Linked DNA regions of Homo sapiens: region 1 is linked to region 2. Evidence: fine-mapped expression QTL. A gene starts in region 2. The other region holds a variant in brackets. All regions are shown on one strand. Distances are from middle to middle. Region 1 overlaps ATP5MF-PTCD1 (ATP5MF-PTCD1 readthrough). Region 2 holds the start of ARPC1A (actin related protein 2/3 complex subunit 1A).

Region 1 (10,797 bases), 98 kb after region 2:
CACTGTGGCTGTCGTGGCTGCTCTGGCTGAGGCTGGCGCGCTCCACCCTGGACTCTGGACTTCGCAGGTTCCTGCCTGTCACGCCACCCCCTTCCTGGGAGCAGCGAGCAGTGCCCCAGGCCCGAGTTGGAGCACGGTCTCTATGGGGAAGGCTTCGCTGTCTATCAGCTGTGATTTGTAAAAATAAAATCTTTAAATCTCTCGAGCCCCACGTCTCTTCTTTCAGAGCATCGGCCTATGGAACCCGGCGGGGCGGCCCAGGCCCCAGGGACCAGATGCCCCAGCCCCCTTGTGGTGTGTGAGGTGACACACAAAGGTAGCTGGAGCTGGAAGTCCCGTGAAGGTGACACGCAAAGGTGGCTGGAGCTGCACTTGGACCTGCTGGGAGCACAGGCACCTTGGGCCTAGTGTGTGTCCTCACCAACACCTGTGACACGCTGCGGCTGTTCCTCAGGGCCTGGCTCTTCCCCCAGGCAGGAGGTGACACCAGCTCACTTGTCCTGGGGCTCCCACAGAGCACTGGGGGCCGAGCACATTGTTCCAGCTGTGCTCCCATCACCTGCCCCCAAGGGCACATCCGTCATCAGCCTCCTTGCCGGTGTCCTGGTCCCCCTGGGGCTTGGTCCGGAACTTCTGCCAGGGGTGCGGGGTTTCCTCTGCGGGCATCACTGTCAGCCACTGCTTGTAATAGGCTCGGAAGCCGTCAATCTTCTCCAGGTAGGTGTTCTTCCCTTGGTACTAGAATTAGAAAAGTGAGGCTAGAATCACTCCTGTTACCTACAGCTAATCCCAAACCTCGGCAGCTGGCTCAGGCCTCAGGGAAGCTGGTGGCTGCCATTTTCCCTTCCAGGTGGCTGCAGAGGACAGGGCAGAAAAGCTGTGAACACGCACTATGGGACTAGCTTACTTCAGAGAAACAGGTCCCCGCTGGGTACCCTGGGGCAGGCCCAGAGCCATCTGCCCAATGGCGTTCTTCCCAAATAGGCACCACTGTGCTCCTCCATCCGCAGTTGCCACCCCAGGCCCCCAAGCCAGAATCACTGGGTCCCACCAGCTCTGCCTCCACAGCCTGCCGAGCCCCTCCCCATCAAAGCCACCTCCCTCTGACCATTATCTCAACACTGCCAAGATAGGCTCCATGAGATATGGGGAAAAAAGCAAAGACACACCAGACACAAACTGAGAGCTGGTAGGGGAATATACCAAAAAAGCCAAAAAGTGCTATCCAACATACAGCTACTACCACACAATGACAAAAGGTTTGGCCGGGTGCGGTGGCTCACGTCTGTAATCCCAGCACTTTGAGAGGCCGAGGTGGGCAGATCACTTGAGGTCAGGAGTTCGAGACCAGCCTGGCCAGCATGGTGAAACTCCATCTCTACTAAAAATACTGGATGTGGCGGTGCATGCCTGTAGCCCCAGCTACCTGGGAGGTTAAGGCAGGAGAATGGCTTGAACCCGGGAGGCAGAGGTTGCAGTGAGCTGAGATCACGCCATTGCACTCCAGCCTGGGCGACAGAGCAAGACTCCATCTCAAAAAAAAACAAAAACAAAAAAAGGTTTGACTCAAAAGACTGGACAATTCTAAACCTTAAGGTGCCGGATAGAGCCTGAAAGCACAGAAAGCAAAACTCAACAGAATCACGAATATAAACAAGTCCACCATCATGAGGGAATATGAGTACAGATGCTCCTGACAGCAGGGTTCCGCCCCCCAAAAACCCATCGTAAATCAAAAATCAATCTGGCTGTGTGTGCTGGCTCACTCCTATAATCCCAGTGCTTTGGGAAGCCGAGGCAGGCGGATTACATGAGCTCAGGAGTTCCAGACCAGTTTGGGCAATATAGTGAAACCCTATCTAAAAGATTAGCTGGGTACAGTGGTACATGCCTGTAGTCCCAGCTCCTCAGGTGGCTAAGGTGGGAGGACTTCTTAAGCCTGGGAGGTCAAGGCTACAGTGAGCCATAATCGTGCCACTGCACTCCAGCCTGGGCAACAGAGTGATTCCCGTCTCTTTAAAAAAAAAAAAAAAAAAGAAAAAAGAAAATGCGGCACGGCATGGGGGCTCACAACTATAATCCCAGCACTTTGGGAGGCTGGGGTGGGTGGATCACGAGGTCGGGAGTTCAAGACCAGCCTGGCCAAGATGGTGAAACCCCGTCTCTACTAAAAAAAAAAAAAAAACCACAAAAATTAGCCTGGTGTGGTGGCAGGCTCCTGTAATCCCAGCAACTCGGGAGGCTGAGGCAGGAAAATCACTTGAACCTGGGCGGCAGAGGTTGCAGTGAGGCCAGATCGCATCACTGCACTCCAGCCTGGGTGACAGAGTGAGACTCCATCTCATAAAAAACAAAAGGAAAATGCATCTATTGCTGGCAACACAGCAGAGGGTCCTGACTTTATAATTATGCAAAAGTGATATACATTCAGTAGAAACTAACCCCGCACAAAGTCGATCCTTACAGAGTTACATCCTGATAAAACCATTGCAAAGTTGAAAAATCCTGTGTAGAATCATCTTTAAGTCAGGGACATCTGTCTGTGACTTAAATATGATATGCTTTAGGTCTATGATAGTCTTGTGACTGTCGAGTTGAACCCCTAGTGAGCCCTACGCCAGAGGGAAGAGACAATCCACTAGGAAGATATGCACAACATGTGATCAACAAAAAACCAGTACCCAGAATATATAAAAAACCCTGGAATCAATGAGAAAAGGCTTGCAACCAACAGTTCAAAGCACAGACACAGTTCAAAAATGCCCAGCTATGCCTTCAGCCAGACACAATTTCCATTGCTGTCCCACCTATTTGTAGGAAGCCCTCAAAATGGCATTCAGGCGTGACACCTGCACGGCGTTCCTGACCCCGCACCCTCTAGCTGTGTGTGTCCCTGCCCATTTACTTGTTTCCGCCCCATCCGGGCTGTGCTTCAAGCCATAGTGGCTCTCGATGCTCCGGAGATGCTCAGCACAGAGTGTGATTCGATGGACCCAAAAGCCAAACCCCAGAGCCTGATAGCCTCAGAACAGCAGGGAGAGGCTGTGGCCGTGACAAAGCAGATTCCATGACTCTGCCCTGCTCCTGCTGATACAGGAGGTTGAAAGAAATTATTTAGGCAGATAATAAGGGCAACAGAGTCCTTGGCGAAATTTCCCTTTTAATAAAAAGCAGCCCCCAAATAATTTCTTTTCTAACAAAGAGCAGCCTGAAAAATCGAGCTGCAGACATAGATAAGCAAACTGGAAGCTTGCAGGGGTAAATGCTGGCGGCTGTGCCAACAGAAAAGGGCTACCTGGGAGCCAGATATGTTCAACGTGGGGGCCCCATCTTCCCTTCTTTGTTGCCATGTGTACAGTAAAGAACCAGGCAACATGGCGATGGCCACCTGTCTGCATAATAAAAGGTTAGGGTGGGGCACCAGCTTTTATACATGCTATGTAAATGGCACACCTGGTCCAACTAATCTTTTGCGTCCTCTGTAAATCAGACACCACCTCCCCAAGCTCATCTACAAAACCTCTGCATTACACTATGGAAGTGGCAACCCACTTCTCTGGCACCTCTCTCTGCAAGGAGAGAGCTCTTCTCTTTTTTTTTTTTTCACCACCACACCGGGCGAGAGCTCTTCTTTCTTTCGCCTATTAAACTTCAGCTCTTAACCTCTTTTTTTTTTTTTTGAGACCAAGTCTCCATCTATCGCCCAGGCTGGAGTGCAGTGGCGCGATCTTGGCTCACAACAAATCTCAGGTATTCACCCCAGACAATGACACCACTTCACTGCCTGCCCAGTCCCTGAGCAAGCGACAACCTGTTTGGAGTACCCAGCAACGTGCAGGTGCTGGGGACCCAGATGAGCACAGCAGACAGCCTCTGCCTCCAGAAGCCTGATACAGGGAAGGCCAGGGCTGCCCATGAGCACATGATCCAAGACTGTAGGACACGGCATAAAGGAACAGAGTGGGAAGGGGGAGGGGAGACTTTCATCCCAGGTCAGAGCGGCAGCCAGCTGGGCATGTCTGAGGGCCACTTAAGCAGAGACCTCCAGGAAAAGTGGGTGCCACCTGAGGCAGCGGGAACACCAATCCCGAAGCAGGCAAGAGGTTGGTGGCCTCTGCGAACTGACAGAAGGCCACTGGGACAGACAGAGAAAGCAAACGCAAGGCTGAGACATGAGATGAGCCACGCAGACAGGGACTCGCAGGCTGTGGTCTACAGACTTGGGTACTGCTCCTAAGGGAAGCTGCTGGACAGTTTCAAGCATGGCAACACAATCCCAAGGGCCAGAACCGGGGTTGGGTGGTGGGGGGAGGGGGTAGCAATGGTGAAGGAGCTGATGAGCTTTTGAGCTTGGGGCACACACCCGGTCAAAGGTGGGAGGGTACTGGGCTGCAAACTCCAGCTGGCGGATGACCACTTCGTTCACCGGGACCCTGTTCTGCTTCATGTCCTTCAAGATGCTGATGAGATAGGTGTAGTTCAGCTTCCTGATGGCCGCGTTGATGAGGGCACTGTAGATGTGAGTGTTGGGGGTCACCTGGGACTTCTAGAACACAGGGACATCGTAGAATCAAGATGATGGCAGCCATTGGGACCCAGCAGCTCCCACCCTCTGTCAATCAAGCTGGCTCCCGGGACCAGCGGCCAGGGCCAGCAAGGCAAACTTGGCAGCAACAATGTGCTGAATATCCCTCTCCAGCAGGAAAGCCAAGCCCAGCCCCTCTGCTCAGCCCTAAAGAAGCTGCGGAAAAGGACGCTCGTGCTGCTCTCAGACACCGACTGACTCAGGCAGAAAATGATGTGGGAGACACCACCTCCTTGCTCCCTGGGGTGGGCTTCC[T/C]GTGACGCACGGTCACCAGGTGGTGGTTGGCCTAGAAAAGTGCAAGCCTTGGCTGGGTGAGCCCGGTAGGGTCCAGGAAAACAGCCAGAGGATGATGGACCTGGGGACACCGACAACCCAGGACGCAGCCTCTGCTGTGGTCGGATGAAATCCACGCAGCACTTCCAATGGGGGTTAGGTGGGAGGCACAGACCTCGGGGGCTTTGAAAACTGCCCACGGCCCCTCAGGAATTCTGAGAATCCCTGCCATACCTCTAGAGTGTTGGGGCCGAGGCCTGTGCCCAGCCCTGTGTCAACCCACGGCCACCTTCTTCCGGATGGGAACATCCGTGTGTCTCTACGCCCAGCCCTGAAGCACTCACTGGGGTCTGCTTCCCCCAAAATGGGACCAAAGACCAGAAGGTCATTGACCCCACTCTCTTTGCCCCATGCACAGTTCATCCTCTCCAGGTGGGGGGTCTGCAGACCCCTCAAACTTTCCTCCTGAGCTGCAGAGTGCTCCTGAGCACCATGGGTGTCCTGCCCAGGCCCGAGTCCACTCACCTTCATGTCTGTGAGAAGCTGTAGACCGTCCTTCGGCCTGTGGCACCCGATGGCCAGGTTGCAGAATGTCTGCAGGTTGGGGACGAGGCCCCTCTTTGCCAGGACCGGCAACAGCGCCTTGGCCCCCTCCAGGTCTCCCAGCTTGCTCTTCTTTCTCACCAGCGTGTTAAAGAATGTCAGGTCGGCCTCTACCTGGTGCTCATCCAGGAGGGCCAGCAGCAAGGACTCTGCAGGACTCCCGGACTCCACCACCTCGGCCAGTAGCGTGAGGGTCCTGATGTCGGGCTGCTGCCTGTGCTCTGCCATCTTGCTCAGGAAGCCCTCCAGGCCCCCTATCAAGGCCAGCCGGTCAGCTGGGGTGGTCACCGTTCCAAAGGAGACCACTGTAGGGGGAACGGCCCCGGGGGTCAGGAGGTTGACTTCCAGCTCCACGGGAGGTGGCTTCAGGGCCACTGCGGTGAGGGCTGCTGTGTGGCTGGGCTCTGCCTTAGTATCCACCTCTGGTTGGGCCTTGCCGGGCACTCTGGCTTCCGGAGGCTCTGGAGGCCCAAGTGCCTGAGAAGGTTCCAGAAACAGCTGCCTCTCCAGGGCCTCCACATGCAGCATGGCTGACATGAGGTTGCCTGCCTTGGCCTGGGCTGTCCTCCTTGGCCGCTGCCTGCTCACTGGGGGCTGAAGCACAGTCGCCTCCTCCCTGGGCTTCAGAAGCAGCTCTGAGGCCACCTGGGGGTCCCCTAGGCCACAGTCCCGAGCTGCCACCAACAGCAGGTTGTAGCTGTCCCGGCTCGGCTGTAGCCCTAGACTCAGCATCAGCCGCCACACCTGCCACGGAAGAGACAAACGTCAGCTGGGTGCTCCCATTCAGCAGCTGGGCGCAGGGCTCACGCCTGGAATCCCAGCACCTTGGGAGTTTTAGATGGGAGGATCCCTTGAGATCAGGAGTTCGAGACAAGACCGGGCAACATAGCAAGACCCTGCCTCAAAAAAATACGCCAGGCGCGGTGGCTCACGCCTGTAATCCCAACACTTTAGGAAGCTAAGGCAGGCAGACTCCTTGAGATCAGGAGTTCGAGACCAGCCCGACCAACATGGTGAAACCCCATCTCTACTAAAAATACAAAAATTATTGGGTGTGGTATTGCATGCCCACAGTCCCAGCTACTCAGGAGGCTGAAGTGGGAGAATCACTTGAACCCAGAGATCGAGGTTGCAGTGAGCCGTGATCATGCCACAGCACTCCAGCCTGGGTGACAGAGCGAGAGTGTCTCAAAACAACTGTAAAACATTTAAAAAATTGGCCGGGCCTCTCCCTCTCCCTCTCCCTCTCCCCCTCCCTCTCCCCATGGTCTCCCTCTCCCTCTCCCTCTCCCTCTCCCCACGGTCTCCCTCTCCCTCTCCCCACGGTCTCCCTCTCCCTCTTTCCACAGTCTCCCTCTGATGCCCAGCTGAAGCTGGACTGTAACTGCTGCCATCTCGGCTCACTGCAACCTCCCTGCCTGATTCTCCTGCCTCAGCCTGCCGAGTACCTGCGATTGCAGGCGCGCGCCACCACGCCTGACTGGTTTTTGTATTATTTTGGTGGAGACGGGGTTTCGCTGTGTTGGCCAGGCTGGTCTCCAGCTCCTAACCGCGAGTGATCCACCAACCTCGGCCTCCCGAGGTGCCGGGATTGCAGACGGAGTCTCGTTCACTCAGTGCTCAATGGTGCCCAGGCTGGAGTGCAGTGGCGTGATCTCGGCTCGCTACAACCTCCACCTCCCAGCCGCCTGCCTTGGCCTCCCAAAGTGCCAAGACGGCCGCCACCCCGTCTGGGAAGTGAGGAGCGTCTCTGCCTGGCCGCCCATCGTCTGGGATGTGAGGAGCCCCTCTGCCTGGCTGCCCAGTCTGGAAAGTGAGGAGCGTCTCTGCCCAGCCGCCATCCCATCTAGGAAGTGAGGAGCGCCTCTTCCCGGCCGCCATCCCATCTAGGAAGTGAGGAGCATCTCTGCCCGGCCGCCCATCGTCTGAGATGTGGGGAGCGCCTCTGCCCCGCCGCCCCGTCTGGGATGTGAGGAGCGCCTCTGCCCGGCCGCGACCCCGTCTGGGAGGTGAGGAGCGTCTCTGCCCGGCCGCCCCGTCTGAGAAATGAGGAGACCCTCTGCCTGGCAACCGCCCCATCTGAGAAGTGAGGAGCCCCTCCGCCTGGCAGCCGCCCCGTCTGAGAAGTGAGGAGCCCCTCCGCCCGGGAGTCACCCTGTCTGGGAAGTGAGGAGCGTCTCCGCCCGGCAGCCACCCCGTCCGGGAGGGAGGTGGGGGTCAGCCCCCGCCAGGCCAGCCGCCCCGTCCGGGAGGGAGGTGGGGGTCAGCCCCCCACCCGGCCAGCCGCCCCGTCCGGGAGGGAGGTGGGGGTGGTCAGCCCCCTGCCCGGCCAGCCGCCCCGTCCGGGAGGTGAGGGGCACCTCTGCCCGGCTGCCCCTACTGGGAAGTGAGGAGCCCCTCTGCCCGGCTAGCACCCCGTCCAGGAGGGAGGTGGGGGGGTCAGCCCCCCGCCCGGCCAGCCGCCCCGTCCGGGAGGGAGGTGGGGGGTCAGCCCCCCGCCCGGCCAGCCGCCCCGTCCGGGAGGTGAGGGGCGCCTCTGCCCGGCCGCCCCTACTGGGAAGTGAGGAGCCCCTCTGCCAGGCCAGCCGCCCCGTCCGGGAGGGAGGTGGGGGGGGTCAGCCCCCCGCCCAGCCAGCCGCCCCGTCCGGGAGGTGAGCGGCGCCTCTGCCCGGCCGCCCCTGCTGGGAAGTGAGGAGCCCCTCTGCCCGGCCACCACCCCGTCTGGGAGGTGTGCCCAGCGGCTCATTGAGAACGGGCCATGATGACAGTGGCGGTTTTGTGGAATAGAAAGGGGGGAAAGGTGGGGAAAAGATTGAGAAATCGGATGGTTGCCGTGTCTGTGTAGAAAGAAGTAGACATGGGAGACTTTTCATTTTGTTCTGTACTAAGAAAAATTCTTCTGCCTTGGGATCCTGTTGATCTGTGACCTTACCCCCAACCCTGTGCTCTCTGAAACATGTGCTGTGTCCACTCAGGGTTAAATGGATTAAGGGTGGTGCAAGATGTGCTTTGTTAAACAGATGCTTGAAGGCAGCATGCTCCTTAAGAGTCATCACCACTCCCTAATCTCAAGTACCCAGGGGCACAAACACTGCAGAAGGCCGCAGGGTCGTCTGCCTAGGAAAACCAGAGACCTTTGTTCACTTGTTTATCTGCTGACCTTCCCTCCACTATTGTCCTATGACCCTGCCAAATCTCCCTCTGCAAGAAACACCCAAGAATGATCAATAAAAAAAAAAAAAAAATTGGCCGGGCGCGGTGGCTCACGCCTGTAATACTAGCATTTTGGGAGAGCAAGGCGCCGGATCACGAGGTAGGAGAGCGAGACCATCCAGGCTAACATGGTGAAACTCTGTCTCTACTAAAAATACAAAAACAAAATTAGCTGGGCATGGTGGTGGGCGCCTATAGTCCCAGCTACTCAGGAGGCTGAGACGGGAGAATGGTGTGAACCCAGGAGGTGGAGCTTGCAGTGAGCCGAGATCATGCCACTGTACTCCAGCCTGGGCGACAGAGCAAGACTCCATCTCAAAAAAAAAAAAAAAAAATTAAAAACATTAAAAAGAAAAAGAAAAAAAAAGCTCTCCAGCGGGGAGCTGTGGTTCACACCTGTAATCCCAGCACTTTGGGAGGCCCAGGCGGGCAGATCACATGAGGCCAGGAGTTCAAGACCAGCCTGGTCAACATGGTGAAACCCCGTCTCTACTAAAAATACAAAATTAGCTGGGCGTGGTGGCGGGCGCCTGTAATCTCAACTACTCGGGAGGCTGAGGCAGGAGTATCGCGTGAACCTGGGAGGCGGAGGTTGCAGTGAGCCAAGATCGCTCACTCCAGCCTGGGCAAGAGTGAGACTCCATCTCAAAATAAATGAATGAATGAATGAATGAATGACTCCTGGGTTGCACCTGCAGAAGTGCTAATGGGGGTGTGGGAGGGTTGAACAAGTCCCCAGGTGAGTGTGTGGCAGGCTTTCAAGGAAGGTGAGTTTAGAGGGGCTAAGCCGACTGCAAAGCAGGGTGGGAGGGGCGGGGGCCACCCTCATTCCATCTCCAAGGGCCTCCTCTCCCTGCCATCTGTAGAATGGAGGCTACAGTGGCTGCTGGGTTTTCAGAAAAGAGCACAGATATAAAAATACTCAGCACAGGGCCATCGTGGGTGCTCACAGGATCACCATTTTGCACCTCTGGCACCGGGGAAGCAGGGCAGGAAGGTGGGGTGGGAGGGACATACCTGGAGGGCGTACCGGAAGCCTGTCTTCTTGTCTTGGATGCAGCCCATGAGCAGGAAACTGAAGGTCTCCTCTGTGACCACGTGCCCTTTGTGGATGATTTCCTGGGGGAGGGAACAAAGACGTCCCACTGAGAACCTGCAGCAGGCTGGGCATGGTAGCTCATGTCTGTAATCCTGGCACATTGGGAGGCCAAGGCAGGATGATCACTTGAGGCCAGGAGTTTTGTGACCAGCCTGGGCAACATAGCAAGACCCTGTCTCTAGGAAGCCTTCCCTCGAGTGCACAAAGCAGGACACAGCACACGGTGGCATACACAATCTCCAGTAAGGTCTCATCAGATCCATCTGTGAACCCCAGGGCCCAATACCGGCTGTCTCATCCTCCCTAAGCCTTCCTACATGAGGAGAGACAGACACCACAGCCCTGCCCCTGACACGTGGGACCAGCCCCATGAAGGGGAGCAGGACGGCAGGGGAAGCCCCACCTTGAACACATCGAGGCACATCCTAAGGTCTGCGCACTTGGCAGCCATCTTCAGCAGCGCGTGGTATGTTTTCAAGTTGAGCTCGAAGTTTTTGGCCTGCAGCTGCTGCCGGAGCTTCAGGGCGCTCTGTAGAGCTGAGTCCTTCCAGGGGGACTCGGCACAGACGTTGAACAGGGCCGTGTAGGTGGCGTCCGAGGGCTCCAGGTCCCGCTTTTTCATCTGTGGAGATGGAAGAAGCTCAGTGGTGGCCCGGGATCAGCTGGACGCACAGGTGAGCAGCTGCCCCAGAGGAGGCTGAGGCTGGAGAGGACCCCGTCACTGCATCCACCAGGCCAGGCTCTAAGGCAGAGCCATGGACACATCAGAGCCCAGCTCTCCAAACTCAGACACATTGAAGGGACTCTGAAAACTGAGCCCACACACCCAGATGTACCAAACAGGAGCTACCCTGCCCTGGGCACTTGTCAGCCCACTCCAGGCCTGGGGTCCTGGCAGCAAGGTCTTCCTGATGTCCCCACCTTCAGGCCACCCCGTCAAGGGGAAAGGGCCTGTAGTGCTTACTACCTGAGGGCTCCCGGGCAAGTTAGCACTTCCTCGCGAAAATGGGGATGACACCATCAC
Region 2 (10,797 bases):
TCTGGAGTGATAAGTGTGTCTCTCTATGCTAATGAAATGACTGGTGGATGAGGGTGCTAGATGGCTCCAGAATGATTTTATTAAAATAATCTAAGCTTGCATAACATGGAAAAATGTGTCGGTAACAAAATGTCTAAGTGGCTCTGGCCTTGAGGAGATTTACAGGTTCATGGGTTACAGATTTCACTTATTAAATTAGGTAAGTAACACAGGGAATTCCCAAGTCTGCTTGTATGATTGTCTTACAAGTATGGTATTTGCGATAATATGCTATTTATACACACCACCTGAGACTACCCTGTGCCCCTAGACATCCCGTGACTGGTCCCATCTCTGTCCTATGGAAATGAACTGAGTGAGCAGTGGAAAAATCCACATGCACTTTTCAGTTCACCTGTATTGAACTCTACAAAATCCTTTCCATAGGAAGTTTTCCTCACTGGGAACATACCCAGCAATTAGGACAATATCTAAAGCATAAGGATTATTGTTAACTAATAACACACAATATGCATTAATAGTTTTGTCCTTTTGTTTGTTTATAGCTTTTATTGGCATTGATTCAGTATTTCCAACAGTTTTTTTGGTGACTAGATGGCAGGCATTATTGGAAGATCTGCAGTAATTGTTCACCATTTCAGCTGTTGGCACAACAAGCAAGAAACAATCTTCTTACTCTCCAACTCCACATTCCAGTTATTAAATCAAGCTCTCCTGAGAAGGAAATCCTTACGCCTTTACAAACATGTAACCTTCCTAAACTATGATGGATTATGTTCCTGATGTGTCTATATAAGCCCCACCTTCCATTCTCAACTAGCAGTAACCTCTGTGTCCTTTGACATCCAAATTGTTTTCTTTCATTCATTTGCACTTTCATTCAACGAATGTTAACCAGGACCTTCCAGATTCAAGGTATTGTGCATTTCCTTTTATTTAAAATTATTTTAGCAGCATCCCTGGTCTAAAAATAAGATAAAATATTTTGTGGACTGGTCATATCCTAATCTCTAAGTTACTTGAGAACAGAAGGATCTTACTCTACTCTTATTAACACAATAGTTGGCACTTGGTGAGTATTTATTAAATATTTGATGCCTTGAATCTTGACCAAATTCTAATTCAACTCAATTCCAATTCCAATCCAATCAGCAAAGCAAACAAAATCAGCCCACGGTAGTGTCCAACCCCTCCCTCTCTTCCATTGCCCACTTCTAAGTACCACCTTCCCTGGCACTAATTGTTAAGTCTAATTAGGGAAAAGGAGTCAGGATGGTGGGAGCAGGGGGAAGCAAAAAGAAGCAGGTAAACTACAAGTCTGCCATTCTTTATGGTCCAGACACACAGCCCTCCTCTGCAAATAACTCACAATCTTCCTGCGCCCAACAATTACAGCATAAACACTATTCCATAAAATCCCCAGCAAGCCTTTCTTTGCAGTTGGCTGCTCTTCTGCTGATTCTGCCTGTTGCCTTCTCGTACCTTCCTACTTTCTCTAACAAATCTGCCTTTATCTACAACTGTCTTGGTAAATCCTTTTACCCACGTACCACCAGCCCAGACAGCTGCCCCTCACCCATGATACTAATCTTTTAAAAGGTTGAGTCTGCATTTTGGATACTACATCACACATGCCTTAAAAACAAACATTAAAAGTAACTCACCCTCCTTAGAACCCTGATGGTTGGCTTTTATAGCAGGGCACGATGGTATAACCAGTAAGGCCAGAGCAGGTGGCCAGCCCCCCAACCCTCCCTGCCTTGTATCAAAACCCTCAGGTTTCAGGCCAGGCTTGGTGGCTCATGCCTGTAATCCCAGCACTTTAGGAGGCCAAGGTGTGTGGATCACTTGAGGCCAAGAGTTCAAAACCAGCCTGGCCAACATGGCAAAATCCCATCTTTACTAAAAATACAATAATTAGCTAGGTGTGGTGGCACGCGCCTGTAATCCCAGCTACTCAGGAGGCTGAGGCATGAGAAACGGTTGAACCAGGGAGGTGGAGGTTGCAGTGAGCTGAGATCACGCCACTGCACTCCAGCCTCGGTGACAGAGCCAGACACTGTCGCATAACAAAACAAAACAAAAAAATTCCTCAAGTGTCAAAATTTTTCTTTTTCTTCAATTACAGAAGAGCCCCGCTTAGAGCTAAGATTCTACCATCTGGAATGACTCATAAAATATGAAGTGGGCCGGGTGTGGTGGCTCACGCCTGTAATCCCAGCACTTTGGGAGGCCGAGGCGGGAGGATCATGAGGTCAGGAGTTCGAGACGAGCCTGACCAACATGGTGAAACCTTGTCTCTACTAAAAATACAAAAATCAGCTGTGCATGGTGGCGTGTGCCTGTAATCCCAGCTACTCAGGAGCCTGAGGCAGGAGAATCGCTTGAACCTGGGAGGCAGAGGTTGCAGTGAGCCAAGATCGCACTATTGCACTCCAGCCTGGGTGACAGAGTGAGACTCCATCTCAAAAAAAAAAAAAAAAAGTGAAATGCATCAAATGGTAAGCTTTGGTTAGGCTAAATTGCAAAATACTATTTCAAATCAGAACCAGAGATTAATAATAGTAAATATCTGTTATTTTTTTCTGGGGCTAACATTTCTTGTCACTTATCATAAAGTCTGGTATTAATTTGCATGTGTTACTCTCATCTACCCAGATTATAAATTCCATCAAAGCAGTAAGTGTTCCTTGTAAAGAGGTGGGATCTTCATAAACTCCTCTACATACTTGGGAATTGGTTCAAGTAACTTGCAGACACACAAGGAATCCCTGCTTTCCACACCTGCTGTCCTCCCTTTCCCAAGCTGTCTCTTGGAGGGGGTAATGAATTTACAATGATCTTTCTACACTATCTGCTCGATTACCCTATGACCAAAGACTTTGTAACCACAGGTCAGAGTTAAAATCAGAATTTCAGTGAAGCGATGTTCCATGAACAGCTGGATTCACTAACTCAGTGGTCCCCAATCTTTTTGGCAGCAGTGACCGGTTTCATGGAAGACAATTTTTCCACGGAAAAGGGGGCAGGGGCTAGGGGAGAGGGGTGGGGTGGTTTTAGATCATCAGGCATTAGATTCTCATAATGAGCATGCAACCTAGATCCCTCGCATATGCAGTTCACAATAGGGTTCACTTTCCTATGAGACTCTAATGCCCCCACTGATTGGACAGGAGGCAGAGCTCAGGCCGTAATGCCAGAGATGGGGAGCGGCTGTAAATACAGATGACACTTCGTTGGCTCGCCCTGCTCACCTCATGTGCCAATGGGTTCCTAACAGGCAACAGACCAACACCCGTCAGCAGCCAAGGAGTTGGGGAACTCTGCACTAACTCCAAAGAACATAGCGGGTCTGGCAGGGCATGGTGGCTCACGCCTGTAACCCTAGCACTTTGGGAGGCTGAGGCAGGCGGGATCACCTGAAGTCAGGAGTTCGACACCAGCGTCGCCAACATTGCAAAACCCCGTCTATACTAAAAATACAAAAATTAGCCGGGCATGGTGGCGCGCAGCTGTAGTCCCAGCTACTCGGGAGGCTGAGGCAGGAGAATCGCTTGAACCCGGGAGGCGGAGGTTACAGTGAGCCGAGATCGCGCCACTGCACTCCAGCTTGGGCGACAGAGAAAGGCTCCGTCTCAAAAAGATCACAGCGGGTCTGAAATTGAGAGTTTGACAAGTATACCTACATAAACCTCACCTTACAATACCAAAGGGAAGGAGACAAGCCCTTGGTTGGCCTGGCATGGCGCTGGGCGGCGGCGGGGGGGAGCTCACATCGCTTTGGGAAGCAGAGGCTAGAGGATTGCTTGAGCCCAGGGGTTCAAGACCAGCCTGGACAACATAGGAAAACCTCATCTTTACAAAAAATATAAAAATTAGCCAGGCACAGTGGCTCACACCTGTAATCTGAGGGCTTTGAGAGGCCAAAGAGGGACGATCGCTTGAGCCCAGGAGTTCAAGACCAGCCTAAGCAACACAGCAAGACCCTGTCTCTACCAAAAAATAAAAATTAGCCAGGCGTGGTGGTGTGCACTTGTAGTCCCAGCTCCACGGGGGGCTGAGGCGGGAGGATCGCTTGAGCCCAGGGGTTCCAGGCTGCAGTTAGCTATGATCGCGCCACTGCACTCCAGCCTGGGCTACAGGTTGAGAACCTGTCTAAAAAAAAAGAAAAAAGAAAAGCTCTCGATTAGCCCCATCTGTGGGGGCTGGGGATGCTCCAGAATTTCTAGGGTTCAAGGGCAGCAGCCTGATTGCAGGTGGGGATCAGGGCATTTCTTGGAGGCTGCATCTGCGGGGCAGGCTCTGTCCTCTGTGAATTGGGGGCCTTGCCAAGTTCCCCCAACCCTTTTATCCCTGCTGCGCCATCTTGGGAGCAGGGAACTGCTTGGGAGCAGGGGATTCTGTCCCAGGAAGGGTCGAGAAAGTTCCTGGGGGGCTTCAGGGGCTTTCCACAGAGGGAGCACGGCGGGGGCGGAGGCTCCCTGCAGGGAGCAGCGCTGAGGTAGACTGGCTCTGACCTTGGCTCTCTGAAGGGAGAAAAACTTAATCGTTCTTCAGGTCCAAGAGCTCCAAAGACCCCCAATCCTCAGTAACTCATCTCCTGACAAAAGACCTTGCGAAACTGCCAAAGCGCCACACTTCGGCTCGCGATTGTGAGGAAATTGGTTGAGGAACGGAGTGGGACGCCCATGCCGCTTCGCCAGCACTTGCCAGGCGTTCCGTGGGGCAGCATCTCCTCTGAAGGGCCGCCGACAGTACCACGCCAATGGAACGGCGTACCCTCCTCCACTGCAGCCTGCCTAACCCCGGACTGCGCGCCCGAGCTGTGCGCATGCGCGGACCGTCCGCGCGGTCGCAACGCGCAGGCGCCGTGTCCACTTCCGGGATCTGTCAGCCGCTCCCTCTGGGCTTCCGTCCTCCGCCCGCGCCCGACGGAGCCTGTTCGCGTCGACTGCCCAGAGTCCGCGAATCCTCCGCTCCGAGCCCGTCCGGACTCCCCCGATCCCAGGTAACGGCCAGCAGGGGCGAGCGTCTCACCCTGTCGGCCTCTCTTGTCCAGGCCTGGCGCCGGACTTGCCGCGGGGGCAGTGAGACGGGGGCTCAGGCCGCGGGGCCCCGAGGCTGAGGCGCGGCCGGGTCTCCCTGCCGGGGCCTCCTGAGGGGGCGGGGATCCCCTTTCTCCGTGGATCCCCTGCAGCTTTTCTCAGGATGTTCGAGCTCCTAGCCGCCTCCGATGCCCGAATTAACGGCCCCTTCTGCGCCCCCAGGGTCCTACTTGCACCTCTGCTGGGGGCATTTGTCACCGTCTCTAAAATTGTGTCAAGTAGGAGGATCTCCCGTAATCGAGCGACCCGCGGGACTATTCATCTCTTTAGTGTCTAGAGTCGATCCCTGCATACAGTAGGCGCCCATAGGATGTTTGCCTGCTCTCTAGGGCAGCCCTCAATCCTTCGGTTAATGGGGAACCTTCTCGATCTCGAGAAAAACCTTCTCCCGAGTTCTTTTAAGATTTCCCTGCATGAGTACCGCCTTCCCCCAAGTCAAAATTGCACCCTTCTCGGCGCTCTTATTCATTTAGTGGAATCTTTTATGCCAGTCCTGGCACCACCACTTTGTTGAGTGATCCTGGGAAGATGCTTCTCTGCGCCTGTTTCCTCATCTGCAATAAAAAGATTCTTACCGTTTTGCTAAGAATCAAGTGAGCTTATTTGCATAAATTGCTTAGAATAGTTCCTGGCCGAGAGTAGGTGATCAATAAATATTAGCTATTATTACTGCTTCTGGGCATTCTATGCATATCCGTCTTCCTTTCCTTTTCTATCTCCTCCACTCTCCCCAAACACCAACCCTCCAGACTTGAAGACCAGAATGGTGTCAGCCTTATTTATGTTTCTAGCCCCATCCCGGTATTTACAACACTGCTGGGAACATGATAGGCACTTAATCAGTTATAGCTTAGAATCTTTGATTATAAAGCCATCTGTTCTCCTGCAGCTTTGGAACCTTCTGTCTATGTCAACTCGTAGCTTAAATTGCCGAGATTATCTTAGTTCTGCCCTCTCTCCTCAATTTTATCTAGTCTTGTGGTTTCACATAGGGCCTGGGTTTTCAGGTATCTAAAAACAGAGGAGGGGCATCAGTCAGGAAGGTGTTTTTGTCCTGTTAGGGAGTGGGTAACTGTGGTTGTTGTCTTCCTTTTTTTTTTTTTTCCTGCAGCCTCGACCTCCTGGGCTTAACAGATCCTCCCACCTCAGCCTCCTGAGTAGCTGGGACTACAGGCGTGTGCCACCACACTGGGCTAATTTTCATTTATTTTTATTTACTTATTTTTGGAGATAGAGTCTCACTCTGTCACCCAGACTGGAGTGCAGTGGTGTGATCTTGGCTCACTGCAACCTCCACCTCCTGGGTTCAAGCGATTCTCCTGCCTCAGCCTCCCGAGTAGCTGTGACTACAGGCATGAGCCACTGCGCCTGGCTAATTTTTTTTTTTTTTTTGTATTTTTTGTAAAGACAGGGTCTCCATATGTGGCCCAAGCTGGTCTGGAGCTCCTAAGCTCAAGCTATCCTCCCACCTCGACCTCCCAAAGTGCTGGGATTTTGGGTGTGAGACACCACACCCAGCTTATATGGCTATTTTCTCCCACAAAGTATTCAGAGATCTTCTGGAGTTCATCTGTTAATCACAGTTAAAGGAAGGGACCATTTCGGAAAACTCCTATTTTGGACGCGGAGTGGTGATACTTTGATCTAGTTGTCTCATCCAATGCTGAAACAAATCCTATATAAAGAAGTTTAAAATGGTCTGCTGGTGAGGCTGGTGCCTGGACTGGAGCCTGTCTGAATGTTGAGGAGGGTGTGGTGACCTTGTTGGAGTACTTGATGTTGCTAGATTGGCTAATGAGAGTGATTAGGAACTAGGTGAATCACGGTCTTGAAAACTGACCCTAAACAGGGGACAGAAATGCCCACTTTTGTGGGCATTTTCAAGCTCCAAAGGAGTAGGGCCAAGAATTTATAGCATATGTCAACGTTTCCAAGCTCAGAGGAAACTAACTGGTGGGTTCTATGGTTGGTTTAAAAGCCTTGAGTTGGCCAGGTGCAGTGGCTCACGCCTGTAATCCCAACACTTTGAGAGGCTGAGGCGGGTGGATCACCAAGGTCAGGAGTTTGAGACCAGCCTGACCAACATGGAGAAACCCCGTCTCTACTAAAAATACAAAATTAGCCAGGCATGGTGGCACGTGCCTGTAATCCCAGCTACTCAGGAGGCTGAGGCTGGAGAATCGCTTGAACCCGGGAGACGGAGGTTGCGGTGAGCTGAGATCACACCATTTCACTCCAGCCTAGGCAACAAGAGCAAAACTCCATTTAAAAAATAGAAAAGCCTTGGGTCAAAGGGAGAAAGGGAACCTGCTGGCATGTATTTCAGGCTAGGCTCTGTACTACTTGCTTTCACATGTCTCATTTAATTCTCCTTGTGATCTCAGTGGTATATCCACTTTACAGAAGAAAAAAATGAGATTTAGAGATATCAAGTGACTTGCCCAGGGTTTCATAGCTAGTGTGTGTCAAAAGCCAGGGTTCAAACCCAGCCTCGGCTTCAGAGCCCATGGCTAGCCATACATCAGAATGACTCTGTACTCAGTGATAGATAAAGAAAAGGGGTGGGGGCCGGGCATGGTGGCTCATGCTTGCAATCTTAACACTTTGGGAGGCTGAAGTGGGCAGATCACTTGAGCCCAGGAGTTTGAGACCAGCCTGGACAACATAGGGAGACCCCTGTCTTTACAAAAAACTAAAAAATTAGCAGGGCATAGTGATGCATGCCTGTGGTCCCAGCTACTCAGGAGGCTAAAGTGGGAGGATGGCTTGACCCTGGGAAGCCGAGGTTGCAGTGAACTGAGATCACACCACTGCAGTCCAGCCTGGGTGACAGAGCAAGACCTTGTCTGAGAAAAAAACTCAGAGAGAGAGAAAAGGGATGAGGGGGGAGGGAGGGAGGAAAAGAAAAGGGATGAGGGGCAGGGCGCGGTGGCTCACGCCTGTAATCCCAGCACTTTGGGAGGCCGAGGCAGGCGGATCACGAGGTCAGGATATCGAGACCATCCTGGCTAACACGGTGAAACCCCATCTCTACTAAAAATACAAAAAAATTGGCCGGGTGTGGTGGCGGGCCCCTGTAGTCCCAGCTACTCGGGAGGCTGAGGCAGGAGAATGGCGTGAACCCGGGAGGCAGAGTTTGCAGTGAGCCGAGATCGTGCCACTGTACTCCAGCCTGGGCGACAGAGCGAGACTCCGTCTCAAAAAAAAAAAAAAGAAAATAAAGAAAAGGGATGAGGAGTTCCTGGCATTTTTATTTGTCCCCTTTTCTCCCTCTCTAGCTCTATTAAGACAAAGCTTTTCAGATTTCACTTAAACATTAACCATAGTTTAGAAATTATAATTATCACCCTATGACAGAAGGTACCCTTTCTTGGTACATAATTCAAGCTATTAGGAATTTCTTCTGCATTCACTGGGTTTCATGAATGCAAGTGGTGTTTGCTAGGTGCATTCTAAATTTGACAAACATGAGTGTTGTCTTGGCCTGCAGACTTAAAATAGCCACCTGATTATAAAAGAAGTACAGGTCTTAAGTGTATGTCCAAATATGGAACTTGAATGATATGGCAAAATTAGAAATGCAATTTTAGAAGTAATTACACTGTTGTGTAAATGGCCACCTCTTTTGAAGTCTTTGCTACATTGCTTATAAAACACTGAGTTGAACATGAGAAAGCCTTTTGTCTGCAGCTGTACTTTTCAACTGGACATGAACCATGTACTTTTATGGCACGTAGATATTCACATCAAATTTCTGATTTGCAGACCGATTTTATTTTTAGTTAACAAATAAGCTTATCAAATGTGGCTTTTGAACTAAAGCGCTTTTAATTAAGGAGTTATAACAGCATGTTATTTTGAGTAGCTGTTACTAAAATCTGTTGTGATGGAACAATTTGGAGTGAGCATCTGATATCAGAGATAAAGAGAGAAGCATGCAGTGAGCATCTGGAAGTTCTTGTAAAAAAAAAAAACAAATTAAACATTCTCATTTGAATGCATTTAAAATTTTTTTAAATTGCCAATTCCTAAGCTTTTTCTTTGTTAGTTGTAGTTTGCTTTCTCGACTGTATAAAAGAAAAAAGTAATGACTTAACTATCTTCACTCTTAGAATAGAATATGAAATGCTAGCATTTCTCTGCCAGTTCAAGGTATCAGATGTTTTTTATTTAAAGTTGCACTTACCTTTGGGTTCCCCCCCCCTTTTTGTTTGTTTGTTTGTTTTGTTTTGATACAGAGTCTCACTCTGTCACCTAGGCTGCAGTGCAGTGGCACCATCTTGGCTCACTGCAACCTCCGCCTCCCATGTTCAAGAGATTCTTGTGCCTCAGCCTCCTGAGTAGCTGGAATTACAGGTGCCTGCCACCATGCCCGTCTGATTTTTGTATTTTTAGTAGAGATAGGGTTTCGCCATGTTGGCCAGGCTGGTCTCGAACTCCCGACCTCAGGTGATCCGCCCACCTCGGCCTCCCAAAGTGCTGGGATTACAGGCTTGAGCCACCATGCCTGGCCTGGGTTCCTTTACAATTAGCAGAGGTGCTGCTTCTGCTTTCTGAGACTGATTTCTGCTTTGTCAGCTGAACTTTCATTGTTCACTTTACAACCTTCTAGTGGCCCTTCCATTCATTTCCTGCTTGCATCAGAATTCATATCTCACATTTCAGCCTCCACCCAAGGTTAACATGACACATACTTACGTGTGTTGAAACTTGAGTTTATTGTGAGGGTGCCTCCTGGAAATGATAAAGTTGGGGGTAGAGGAAGGCTGGCTGCTTTTTGAAAAATGTTCCCATTTCAGTTAATGGTTGCTTCTTCAAGTGTATCTAGATTTGGGTACCTATAAAATAGAGAATTTTTAATTTAATGTTTTGCAGATTCCTGCTTTTCATTTAGTTACAATTAAAAGTTTAAAAAGTATTATCACAAACGCCTACATACTCTTTGCCTAGATTCACCAGTTAGCATTTTGCCACATTCACATTCTATATATTTTCTGTCCTGAACTATTGAAAATAAGTTACAGTGGCTGGGCATGGTGACTCATGCCTGTAATCCCAGCACTTTGGGAGGCTGAGGCAGGTGGATCACTTGAGCCCAGTCAGAGCAGCCTGGGCAACATGGTGAAACCCCATCTCTACAAAAATTACCTGGGCTTGGTGGTGCATGCTTGTAGCCACAGCTACTCAGGAGGCTGAGGTGGGAGGATCACTTGAGGCCAGAAGACGGAGGCTGCAGTGAGCATAGATTGCACCACTGCCCTCCAAACCTGGGTGAGAGAGCAAGACCCTATCTCCCCTGCCCCCCACCCAAAAAAAGAAAAGAAGTTACAGAAGACATCATGATACTTCATCCCTGAACACTTCATCATTATCTTTGTCTCCTAAGAGCTAGGACATTCTCCTATCTAATGGCAATACCGTTATCACACCTAAGAAAATGAAAATAATTCCATATGTAATATCTAGTTTAAATTGTAATTTTCCCTGTTATACAAAATACATCTTTTCTGCCCATTTTTTAAAATGTGGATTATGGGCCAGGCACAGTGGCTCACACCTGTAATCTCAGCACTTTGGGAGGCTGAGGAGGGCGGGTCACTTGAGGCCAGGTGTTCAAGACCAGCCTGGCCAACATGGTGAAAGTCCATCTCTACTAAAAATACAAAAATTAGCTGGGCCTGGTGGTGCACAC

What was found. PIP is the estimated chance that this variant, and not a neighbour inherited with it, causes the effect.
Region 1: its variant is the best candidate, but not a certain one, in a credible set for the expression of ARPC1A in lung (TOPMed, PIP 0.60).

The regions. Positions count from the first base shown.
Region 1 is chr7:99,419,412-99,430,208 of GRCh38, forward strand. ATP5MF-PTCD1 (ATP5MF-PTCD1 readthrough) reads right to left here. Exons shown (of 9, transcript NM_001198879.2): 5 at 10,177-10,395; 6 at 9,692-9,793; 7 at 5,384-6,205; 8 at 4,364-4,546; 9 at 1-738. The coding sequence ends at 556. PTCD1 (pentatricopeptide repeat domain 1) reads right to left here. Exons shown (of 8, transcript NM_015545.4): 4 at 10,177-10,395; 5 at 9,692-9,793; 6 at 5,384-6,205; 7 at 4,364-4,546; 8 at 1-738. The coding sequence ends at 556. BUD31 (BUD31 spliceosome associated protein) reads left to right here. Exons shown (of 6, transcript NM_003910.4): 6 at 1-205. The coding sequence ends at 30. Among named protein-coding and RNA genes, the nearest start is that of PTCD1, 14 kb to the right of the region's middle. RefSeq lists enhancers at 3,585-4,086, 10,443-10,797. The variant T/C (reference allele first, on the strand shown) is at 4,841.
Region 2 is chr7:99,320,997-99,331,793 of GRCh38, forward strand. It overlaps ARPC1A (actin related protein 2/3 complex subunit 1A), which reads left to right and starts at 4,902. Exons shown (of 10, transcript NM_006409.4): 1 at 4,902-5,008. LOC105375421 (a long non-coding RNA gene) reads right to left here and starts at 4,812. Exons shown (of 4, transcript XR_927798.3): 1 at 4,518-4,812. RefSeq lists an enhancer at 4,468-5,027 and a silencer at 5,003-5,182.